2 separate regions of the Homo sapiens genome follow, and region 2 is linked to region 1. Evidence: fine-mapped expression QTL. A gene starts in region 1. The other region holds a variant in brackets. All regions are shown on one strand. Distances are between the middles of the regions. Region 1 holds the start of MTERF4 (mitochondrial transcription termination factor 4). Region 2 overlaps PASK (PAS domain containing serine/threonine kinase).

Region 1 (5,216 bases):
GTGGGATACAGAGTTGGCCCTTGAACAACAAGGGTTTGAACTGCTTGGATCCACTTATATGTGGATTTTCTTCCGCCTCTGCCACCCTTGAGACACCAAGACCAAACTCTCCTTCACCTCCTCTTCAGCCTAAAGACCTTATGAGGATCTACTTCCTCTTAATGAATAGTAAATACATTTTCTCTTAGGATTTTCTTTTTGTTTTTTGAGACGGGGGTCTCACTCTGTTGCCCAGGCTGGAGTGCAGTGGTGCAATCATGGCTCACTGCAGCCTTGACTTCCCCAGGCTGAGGTAATCCTCCCACCTCAGCCTTCTGAGTAGCTGGGACTACAGGTGCACACTACACCCTGCTAATTTTTGTATTTTTTGTAGAGACGGGGTTTTGCCCTTATGATTTTCTGAATAACGTTTTCTTTTCTCTAGCTTACTTTAAGAATACAGAATGCAATATATATATATACAAGATATGTGTTAACTGTTTATGTTGTCGGTAAGGCTTCCAGTCATGAGTAGGCTATTAGTAGTTGAGTTTTGGAGGAGTCAAACGTTATACACTGATTTTCAACTGGTGTGGGGGCGGTCTGGTGCCCCTAACCCCTGTGTTGTTCAAGGGTCACAGTAATTAGTCAACTTGCATACACAATTCCAGTTGACCTCAAAAGTCTTCAGTGGTTCAGGCTGGTGCTTAACAAACTATGCACAAATCATCCAGGCACTCTAAGCCAGCAGTCTTCAACGTTTTTGGCACCAGGGACTGGCTTCATGGAAGACAATTTTTCCACAGACTGGTGAGGGGTTTCAGGATGATTCAAGCATATTACATTTGTTGTGCACTTTATTTCTGTTATTTTCACGTTGTAATATAAGATGAAATAATTATACAACTCACCATAATGTAGAATCACTGGGAGCCCTGAGCTTGTTTTCCTACAACCAGGAGGTGCCATCTGGGGTTGATGGGAAACAGTGACAGATCATCGGGCATCAGATTCTCATAAGGAGCGCAACCTGGACCCCTCAAAGGCGCAGTTCACAATAGGGTTCGCGCTCCAGTGAGAATCTAAGGCGGCTGGTCTGACAGGAGGCGGAGCTCAGGCGGTAATGCCAGCGAAGGGAGCGGCTGTAAATACAGTCTGGCTGGCTCACTTGCCGCTCACCTCCTGCTGTGCAGCCTGGTTCCTAATAGGCAAGGGACGGTACCGGGGGTTGGGGAACCCCTGCTCTAAAACCTTCACATCGGTCCCAACCCCTTCTCCAGCGTCATCGATTGTCGCCCTGGGGCCACCCTGCCAAGCCCAAGCTCTGGCTGCTCTCCAGCCTCCCCTGTCCAGATGCTCCCTCCGCCAGGAACACCTGGCAGTCGCTGGGGTCAGCGGGCGCGGCCCGTGGAACTGGGCTCAAGCCTAAAGACCTCTATGCTGATTCCGCTTCCTCTTAATGAAAAGTACATGTTATCTTCCTTGTGAAGTTCAAACTCTTGTTCAACAGTCAACTCAGGCCGGGCGCGGTGGCTCACGCCTGTAATCCCAGCACTTTGGGAGTTCGAGGCGGGTGGATCACCTGAGGCCAGAAGTTACAGACCAGACTGGCCAACACGGTGAAACCCCGTCTCTACTAAAAATACAAAAATTAGCCAGGCATGGTGGCGGGCGCCTGTAATCCCAGCTACTTGGGAGGCTGAAGCAGTAGAATTGCTTGAACCCGGGAGGCGGAGGTTGCAGTGAGCCGAGATCGCGCCATTGCACTCCAGCCTGGAGACAGAGCGAGACTTTGTCTCAAAAAAAAAAAATGTCAACTCTATATCCCACAATAATTGAGCAGAGCCACGGGTCCAGGATGCCAAAACCAGGTCAGCGTGCACGGACCTCCGGGAGGGCTCCACGACCTGGCCGTGAAACACTCGGCGGCCGCGGTTCCTCTGCGTCGCTGCCCGCCCGCCTGCGACCCGGAGAAGCCCGCGCGCCCAGCTCGAGCTTACCTGACGGCCGAACGCAGCCATAGCGCGGAGAAGATGGCAGCAGTTACGGCGCCGGAAGCAGCGGTCCTCCCCCGTCCTTCACTTCCGGCCCCCGGTCCGTCACCGACGCCGTTCCCAGCGCCAGCGCGGTGTGGTGGATCGTGATTCCGGCCCGGAGCTGTGCTGAGCGTTCACGGCCCCGCGGGGCTCAGGTGTCCCGGGGCCGCCCCTTAGAAAGCCGGAAGGCCGGAGTCGCGCCCGTCACCGTGCCGCCGCCTCTGCCGCGGCCTCAGCCTTCGGGGGCCTCGGTGTCCGGTTGTTCCCGTTGCACTGCCGTGTCCCGTTTCGCAGAGCTCTGGGCCGCGTGAACGAATGGGTCGTCCTGGCCCATACTTGTGTTTCAGATGACCTGAGAATTCCTCTCAAGAGTACAGGTAGAGGGGAACTGGTTCCTTGCTTCGGGAACTTCACCCGAGAGCGCAGAAATCCTTCCCGAGGCAGGAAAAATGGATTCCGTTCCATGTAGAGATATTTAAGATTTTATTGTGTAAAAATCTGTATTCAGCGTGAACACCGGGGCCACCTACGCACAAAAAGAAGTCTTTACCGCTTTTCTTTCTTTTTACTCTCAGCCAGTGGAAGATGAGAATTTGCCGTTTTTAAAAGACCCAAGTAAAATGACAGGAATTACGGCACATTTCCCTTTATAAGCAAGAGCCTTCCCAACTTCGAGGTCTGGTTCCCTCTTAGGATGAAATATAGTAAAGTTTTAGCCCAATGTGTATTCATTCTTAAATTTCCTCTCTCGACCTAAGAGCGTAGGCATCTTTCACAAGGTGATGCTTGTGAAGAATAAAAAGGTGTGCTTTCTCAGCTGCCTAAATCCTGCCACCAAAGCCTTAATTTATAAGCATTTCTTGTTTTATCTACTTCATTCTGGACTGACATAAAGGATTTGATTCTTGCATGGGCACACATTTACATATCTGCTTTGCGCCAGGCATGGAGTGGGGTGCCAAACAATTTATGTAAAACTGTCTTTTGACAAAAGGATTATGTCAAAGAAAAGGAAGGTTCTAATCCGTGTAGAAACTAAAGAATTGGTTGCTTTGGCAGAGTGCAGTGGCCCACGCCTGTAATCCCAGCACTGTGAGAGGCTGAGGTGGGGGGGATTGCCTGGGCTCAGGAGTTCAAGACCAACCTGAGCAACATAGGAAAATCCTGTCTCTACAAAAAATAAAAAATTAGCCGGGAGTAGTGGCGTGCACCTGTAGTCCCAGCTACTCAGGAGCCTGAAGTGGGAGGATCACTTGAGTCCAGGAGGTTGAGGCTGCAGTGAGCCATGATTGCACCACTGCACTCCAGCCTGCGTAACAGAGCAAGACCTTGTCTCAAAAAACAAAAGGAAAAAAAAAATTGGTTGCCTTTGTTGTTTTTTATAATGTAATTTTCTTCTCAAAATACTCAACTGTCAACATCTCACAATAAATTGTGTTAATGCTACACCAAAAGCCTAAGAAAATCCCATGAGCCACCCCAACTCCCTGGAAAGAATCAAGGAACCTGAACAGTTTGTCTAGCTCTAGAAATAAAATGACAGCTGGGACATGGGGATTACTATGAAAAATTGACATGAGCCCGGGTGTGGTGGCTCACGCCTGTAATCCCAGCACTTTGGGAGGCCGAGGTGGGCAGATCACCTGAGGTCAGGGGTTTGAGACCAGCCTGGAAAACATGGTGAAACCCCATCTCTACTAAAAATACAAAAATTAGCCAGGCATGGTGGTGGGCACCTGTAGTGTCAGCTACTCAGGAGGCTGAGGCAGGAGAATCACTTGAACCTGGGAGGCGGAGGTTGCAGTGAGCCAAGATCACGCCATTGTACTGCAGCCTGGGCAACAAAAGCGAAAGTACTTCTCAAAAAAAAAAAAAAAAAATTTGACATCACCTTCAGTCTTGTGTGAAAACTTTGCTCTCTCGAACCATACTTTAAAAATATGCAGTGGGTTGGGCACGGTGGCTCATGCTTGTAATCCCAGCACTTTGAGAGGCTGAGATGGGTGGATCACCTGAGGTCAGGAGTTCGAGACCAGCCTGGCCAATATAGTGAAACCCTGCCTCTACTAAAAATACAAAAATTAGCCAGGTAACGTGATAACGCACACTTGTAATCCCAGCTACTCGGGAGGCTGAGGCAGGAGAATTGCTTGAACCCAGGGAACGGAGGTTGCAGTGAGCCGAGATTGCACCATTGCACTCCAGCCTGGGTGACAGAGCAAGATTCCATCTTAAAAAAAAAAAAAAAAATGGAGTGGAAAAATTGTCAGCCTCAGCCTCAGAACTTTCCTCTCTGGGTTCTTTCTGCAAAGAACGTTTGCAAAATACCAGACCTTCCACTGCCATGAAGTCAGATGAGCTTTAATTATTTTTTCTTATAAAGAAGTAACAGTTCTTAGAAAGCTCAGACTATGCATTCTCAACCCATTAAACACCTGTCTGCAAACACCATTGTGGCCGAACGCAGTGGCTCATGCCTGTAATCCCAACATTTTGGGAGGCCGAGGCGGGCGGATCATGAGGTCAGGAGTTTGAGACCAGCCTGGCCAACATAGTGAAACCTCGTCTCTACTAAAAATACAAAAATTTAGCCAGGCGTGGTGGTGGGCACCTGTAATCCCAGCTACTTGGGAGGCTGAGGCAGAATTGCTTGAACCTGGGAGGCGGAGGTTGCAGTGAGCTGAGATCGCACCATTGCACTCCAGCCCAGGCGACAGTATAAGACTCTGTCTCTAAATAAATAAACAAACAAACAAACACCATTCTATAACATCCTCTGTGTTATAAGCACCATAAACACTACAAGGTAGGGGTTCTTAAAACATCAGAAAACTCTTTGAATTCTGAAGAGTGAACATCACTGACTTTAATACACACCTGTAAAACCCTTGTACCTTGAATGTCCCTGATAGAGGAGGGTCCTCCCCCACCAACTCCATCAGTCACTTGTGGTGGCAGCGAGGCTCAGGCAGCACTTTCTGAAGAAAGGGATGGCAATAGCCCATATCCTACTAGATGGGACTAAAATTAACTCTGATCATCCCAAAACAGTTGAGTGCCTCCTAAATAACCACTAGAAATAGCTCAGAACCACGCAGGAGGCAGCCTGGCTCCCAGGCAGCTTCCAGAGGGTTCTGGGCAGGAGTCTCAGAATGTGGAAAAACCGTCTGCAAGTGATGACATGTGGGAAAAGGGTAGGGG
Region 2 (5,255 bases), 29 kb after region 1:
CTCAGTTCTGGCCAGCATGCAGTCAGGGCATGAAGGATGTGATCTGCCGACTGCACACAGGCCTTGAGCTGCTGGGACCTCAACCCAGGGCAGCCCCAGGGACCGTAGGTCCTCCAGTGGGGAAGCACCAGGACCTGACCCCCGTGGAGACCCGAGACCCCCACCTGCTGTCTGAGCACATCACCTGGGGTCTCTTCGAGGACCTGATGCCCAGTGTAACAATTCACTCAGCTTCAGCATCCATTTGCTAAAAATCAGACTACACTCCCAGGATTACCAGGAGAACTAAAGGAGACAACTTACGAGGAAGCACCCAACGTAGTCCCTAAAACACAAAAGCACTCCGTACAGCTCACCTCCTTCCTTCATGCTTCCTAACCCTGTTCTGTCTTACTGTTTCAGCTTATTGTCCTGACCAGACTACAATTCTTAGGGACACACCCCAAGTCTTCTGTAATGCTTATTTGTTGAATAAGCGAACGAGTGAGTGAATGACTGAGCGGGGAATGAATGGATAAATCTCTATAGTCATAACTGCACTAGCTGTGCAGTGGATGCTAATCAAACTCTCAGAACTGTGACATCCAGAAACGTCCAATGCAATAGAAAGACTAGGAATTGGCTGATCTTGGGCAACTCCCTTGGTACCACCAAGTCCTGGAAGATGAGTTGTGTCCAAGGTCCTGAGGATAGCAACGGGCCACGTGGCCTCTGTCCACCAAGATGTCCCAGACAACGGGAGCACTGGCAAGGGGGCCCGGCCGCTAGTGCTGTTGAGCACCCACGGGTCAGACTTGGGCCCTCAACCACGGCCGCCCCACTTCAGCTTGGTGGCACCTCTGGAGAGGTGCGCACAGCAATATTATTCATAGTAATATTGAAAACTCACGTGTTGAGCGCCTGCTCTGTTCCACTCGCAGTGGAAGTAGAGCAAATAGAGCCAACAGCTACCCTCTCACGCCACTCAACGCGGACCCACAGTGGCAAAGGGAAAATCAGGGAGGCTAAGCAAACAAGAGAAAGCACCGGCACATCGGCCAGTGGGAAAGTGGCCCATGAGCTAGGGTGCCATCCAGGAGGCTTCGGTTCCGAGGAGGCCTGTAGAGGAAGATCTGCAGGACATGTGTGTGCGTACACATACACACACATTTAGGACACTGTGTATGGTATAATCCCAGCCGTGCTCAGGGAACAGAAGCAGTTACATGTGAGCACACATATGCACATGCACACATAGAAGTATAATATACAACTATAGTTAAATGCACAAGAAAGAAGGCCTGGAAGGCTCTAACTGCTGACTGCGGTCCCCTGGGGGAAAGAGTAGGATTGGAGGAGGGGGATTGGAAGACGGCCAGGGGAACTATTGCTTTTACCATTATTCTTCTATAATTAAAAAAACACATATGCATGTATTACATTTTTTTTTTTTTTTTGAGACGGAGTCTCACTCTGTCGCCCAGGCTGGAGTGCAGTGGCGCGATCTAGGCTCACTGCAAGCTCCGCCTCCCAGGTTCACACCATTCTCCTGCCTCAGCCTCCCGAGTAGCTGGGACTACAGGCGCCCGCCACCATGCCTGGCTAATTTTTTGTATTTTTAGTAGAGACGGGGTTGCACCGTGTTAGCCAGGATGGTCTCCATCTGCCGACCTCATGATCCACCCACTTCAGCCTCCCAAAGTGCTGGGATTATAGGCGTGATCCACCGCGCCTGGCCCATGCATTACATATTTTTAAACATACATACATACTTTATATGTATCTATTACATATTTTTTAAATAATTTCAAGACTAGAAAACACAACTATGTGGATAAATATCACAGACACAGCAATAAGCAGAAGGCAGACAGAAGGAAATGCATGCGTCAGGCTCAACGGCAGGCAGTCTAACCTCTGCCCTGACCCAGGGCAGCAGGGTGTAGGGGGCACAGTGCAGGAAGGGACCCAGGG[T/A]CTGCAGGCAGCCAAGAAAGGGTCCTGGGCCACCTGGGCACCTACAGTTTGGGCACCTTTACTGCATGCTGTGCATAAGAAAAGATTCTGGGTCAGGTATGGTGGCTCACACCTGTAATCCCAGGACTTTGGGAGGCCAAGGCGGGTGGACCATGAGGTCAAGGGATCGAGACCAGTCTGGCCAACATAGTGAAACCCCGCCTCTAGTAAAAATACAAAAATTAGCCGGGCGTGGTGGCAGGTGCCTGTAGTCTCAGCTACTCAGGAGGCTGAGGCAGGAGAATCACTTGAACCAGGGGGCAGAAGTTACAGTGAACCAAGATCACGCCACTGCACTCTAGCCTGGGCAGCTGAGTGAGACTCCATCTCAAAAAAAAAAAAAAAAAAAAGATTCCGAAGAAGAAAATGGGTTAAAAATACACACACACGTGCTATGTACAATACGACTATGAGAATAGAACAAGTTTTTATTTCTACTTTTCCAAATGTTCCTAATTCTCTAATATAAACTTTCTTTACTCTAAATAGAATATTTTAAAATGTGCAAAGAGAACAGCTTCATATGACTTTGAAAATGATAAAATTAATCCCAGCACTTTGGGAGGCCAAGGCGGGTGGATAACAAAGTCAGGAAATCGAGACCATCCTGGCCAACATGGTGAAACTAAAAAAAATACAAAAAAGTAACCGGGCGTGGTGGCGGGCGCCTGTAGTCCCCAGCTACTCGGGAGGCTGAGGCAGGAGAATGGTGTGAACCCGGGAGGCGGAGCTTGCAATGCAATGAGCAATGAGCTGAGATCGCACCACTGCACTCCAGCCTGGGTGACACAGCGAGACTCTGTCTAAAAAAAAAAAAAAAAAAAAAAAAAAAGAAAATGATAAAATTATGATTCCATCAGTTCTCTGAAATCTACCTCAACATTCTGGAACTCTCCACAGCCTGTTTCCTTATCCCTACAGTGAGACAGTAACACCATGGTGCCCTCCCATACAGGCTGATAAGGACTCAGCCAGGCAGCACAGAAAACCCAGCAGTCAGTGTGTGTGGAAGAGAGCAGGTGCTCAACACATGTGAGTTTTCAATGTTACTATGAATAATAGGCTGAACATTTCTCTCTGACTTGTTCCTCATTCACCTACCATCTGTCTGGACTTTTAGTAAACCTGCAACCTCCCACCAAGGGACTTACCCTGGAGCAGGCTGAGGTGAGAGGCAGGAAAGGAGCTGGCCTCCAGCAATCAGCTCAGTCTGAGTCCCGGTGAAGATGTCTTGGCTTTCCATCAGCTTCCGGATCTCATCTCGGGGCACAACGTGGCCACCAGCAAGCACGACATTAATCCTTGGATCTGGCAGCAACACCAAAAAAGAGCGTTTGCTCTTCACAGGCACTCCCTAAAACGAATCTGCTCATTCGCCTGGAACTCACTGAGACTGCTTCACAGCATGACCAGCATCGACCACCTCTCACCACCCCAGGCGTCCCAGGTCCAACCCAGCGCCCTCTTCTCTGCCTCCTGTCTCCCTGCTCCTTGGCCCAGGACACCTGCAGCCAGCTACCATGATCCTATTAACACCCAAGTCAGAGCACGGCACTCACCTGCTGACAACCCTCCAACAGCTCCCATCTGACTCTGGATAGAAGCCGAAGTCTCGGCCATGGCCCCCCAACTCTGTGGCCTCACTCCTCCAGGTCTCTCCACCTGGCCTCCCTGCCATATCTGAAGTATTAGAGGCCTTGGGATCATGGCTCCTGATCCCAGAAATGCTGTACCTGGGTATCTACAAGGCTTCCCTAGGCCTCCTGGGACCCCAAGCCTAAGACTGCATGCCCTCTTCCCCTCTTTGCCTTCCTCCCGAGCTCTGGCCACTTCCTGGGCTCCATGTCACCTGGCTCCCTCCAGTCCCCGTGAGCGCAGGGGCATCTGCACGCAGTGCAGCCTGGCACGTGGTAGGGGATGAATGTATGTCTCTTGGTTACATGAGAGAAAGCAGCCTGCATTAGGAAGGACCCTGGGAGGCCACGCACAGTGGCTCACACCTGTAATCCCAGCACTTTGGGAGACCGAGGCGGGCAGATCACCTGAGGCTGGGAGTTCGAGACCAGCCTGACCAACATGGAGAAACCCCGTCTCCACTAAAAACACAAAATTAGCCAGGCATGGTGCTACATCCCTGTAATCCCAGCTACTCGGAAGGCTGGGACAGGAGAATCACCTGAACCCAGGAGGCAGAGGTTGCAGTGAGACGAGATGGTGCCACTGCACTCCAGCCTCAGCAACAAGAGCGAAACTCTGTCTCAAAAAAAAAAAAAAAAAAGGACGACCCCAGAAAGAACCCTAGCCCCAAGCCGAGAGAAGCCTGCTCTGTGACCAGGACAGTTGGGTGGTTCGGCATAACTTCTCCAAGAGGCATTTTTGACAGTAACTAGCAAACGTGTTCATTCCCTGAATCCAGAAGTTCCACTTCTAAGAATTCATCCTAAGGAAACAATGCGAGAGTAACAGAAATGTGATCCCCTCCCCCCACCACCAAATATCCGACAAACAGCATGTACTCAACACAGGCATGCATGCACAGGTCAGAATTTGGAATTCTGGAAAAAGGGGAAGGGGAATATAATTAGTGCTAGAGGAAAAAGCTTGTATAAAGGACAGACTGAGATAGAAAAACCCAGATACAATGAAGGGAACCACATGCTAAGGAAAGCCGGGATTGTAAGGAGAACCAACAGCCTAACAAAGTATCTTTTAAAACAAATGTTACAATCCAGCTTCTAATGCCCCAGGCGAGACCCTGTGGGGAAGGAGGCTGGGCGCATGTGCCAAAGAACTCACACAATGCCCAGACAGCTAAAGAGTGTCTGACGGTAAATGTTTATCTCACCAGGCTGGTCAGTCTCGTGAAGCTGTAGTTTTTCTCAGTGACTGTATTAAATCCACTTTCGCACTCATTCGATACCCGAGTGACCGCATGCAGGACAACCTCGCAAGCCAGCACCTGCCGACCCGCCTGGCCCCACCACGATGCAGAGCCCCGAGGTGGCTGTGCTTTCTGCCAGCACTGGCCACTCTCTCTCTCTCACCCCCACTGTGTCCTTCCATAGAACAGAGACCCCCCCACCTGACACCCCTGCCACACCATCACCTGGACCCTTGGGCCCCAGCCTGCCCCAGGAACTCCAGAACCACACCCAGTGAGCCCACGCTCCAGGTGGGCAGAGGCCCTGGAGGCAGAGTTCCGGGGTCCCCACCAGGGCAGAGCCAGGGACAGGGCGCACCCCCACCCCATGCTTGTCAACAAG

Evidence for each region. PIP is the estimated chance that this variant, and not a neighbour inherited with it, causes the effect.
Region 2: its variant is the best candidate, but not a certain one, in a credible set for the expression of MTERF4 in whole blood (TOPMed, PIP 0.57).

What each region holds. Positions count from the first base shown.
Region 1 is chr2:241,100,274-241,105,489 of GRCh38, forward strand. MTERF4 (mitochondrial transcription termination factor 4) reads right to left here and starts at 2,014. Exons shown (of 4, transcript NM_182501.4): 1 at 1,980-2,014. The coding sequence starts at 2,000. RefSeq lists enhancers at 1,261-1,800, 1,801-2,340.
Region 2 is chr2:241,129,731-241,134,985 of GRCh38, forward strand. It overlaps PASK (PAS domain containing serine/threonine kinase), which reads right to left. Exons shown (of 18, transcript NM_015148.4): 9 at 3,144-3,300. Among named protein-coding and RNA genes, the nearest start is that of PASK, 17 kb to the right of the region's middle. RefSeq lists an enhancer at 3,159-3,248. The variant T/A (reference allele first, on the strand shown) is at 1,954.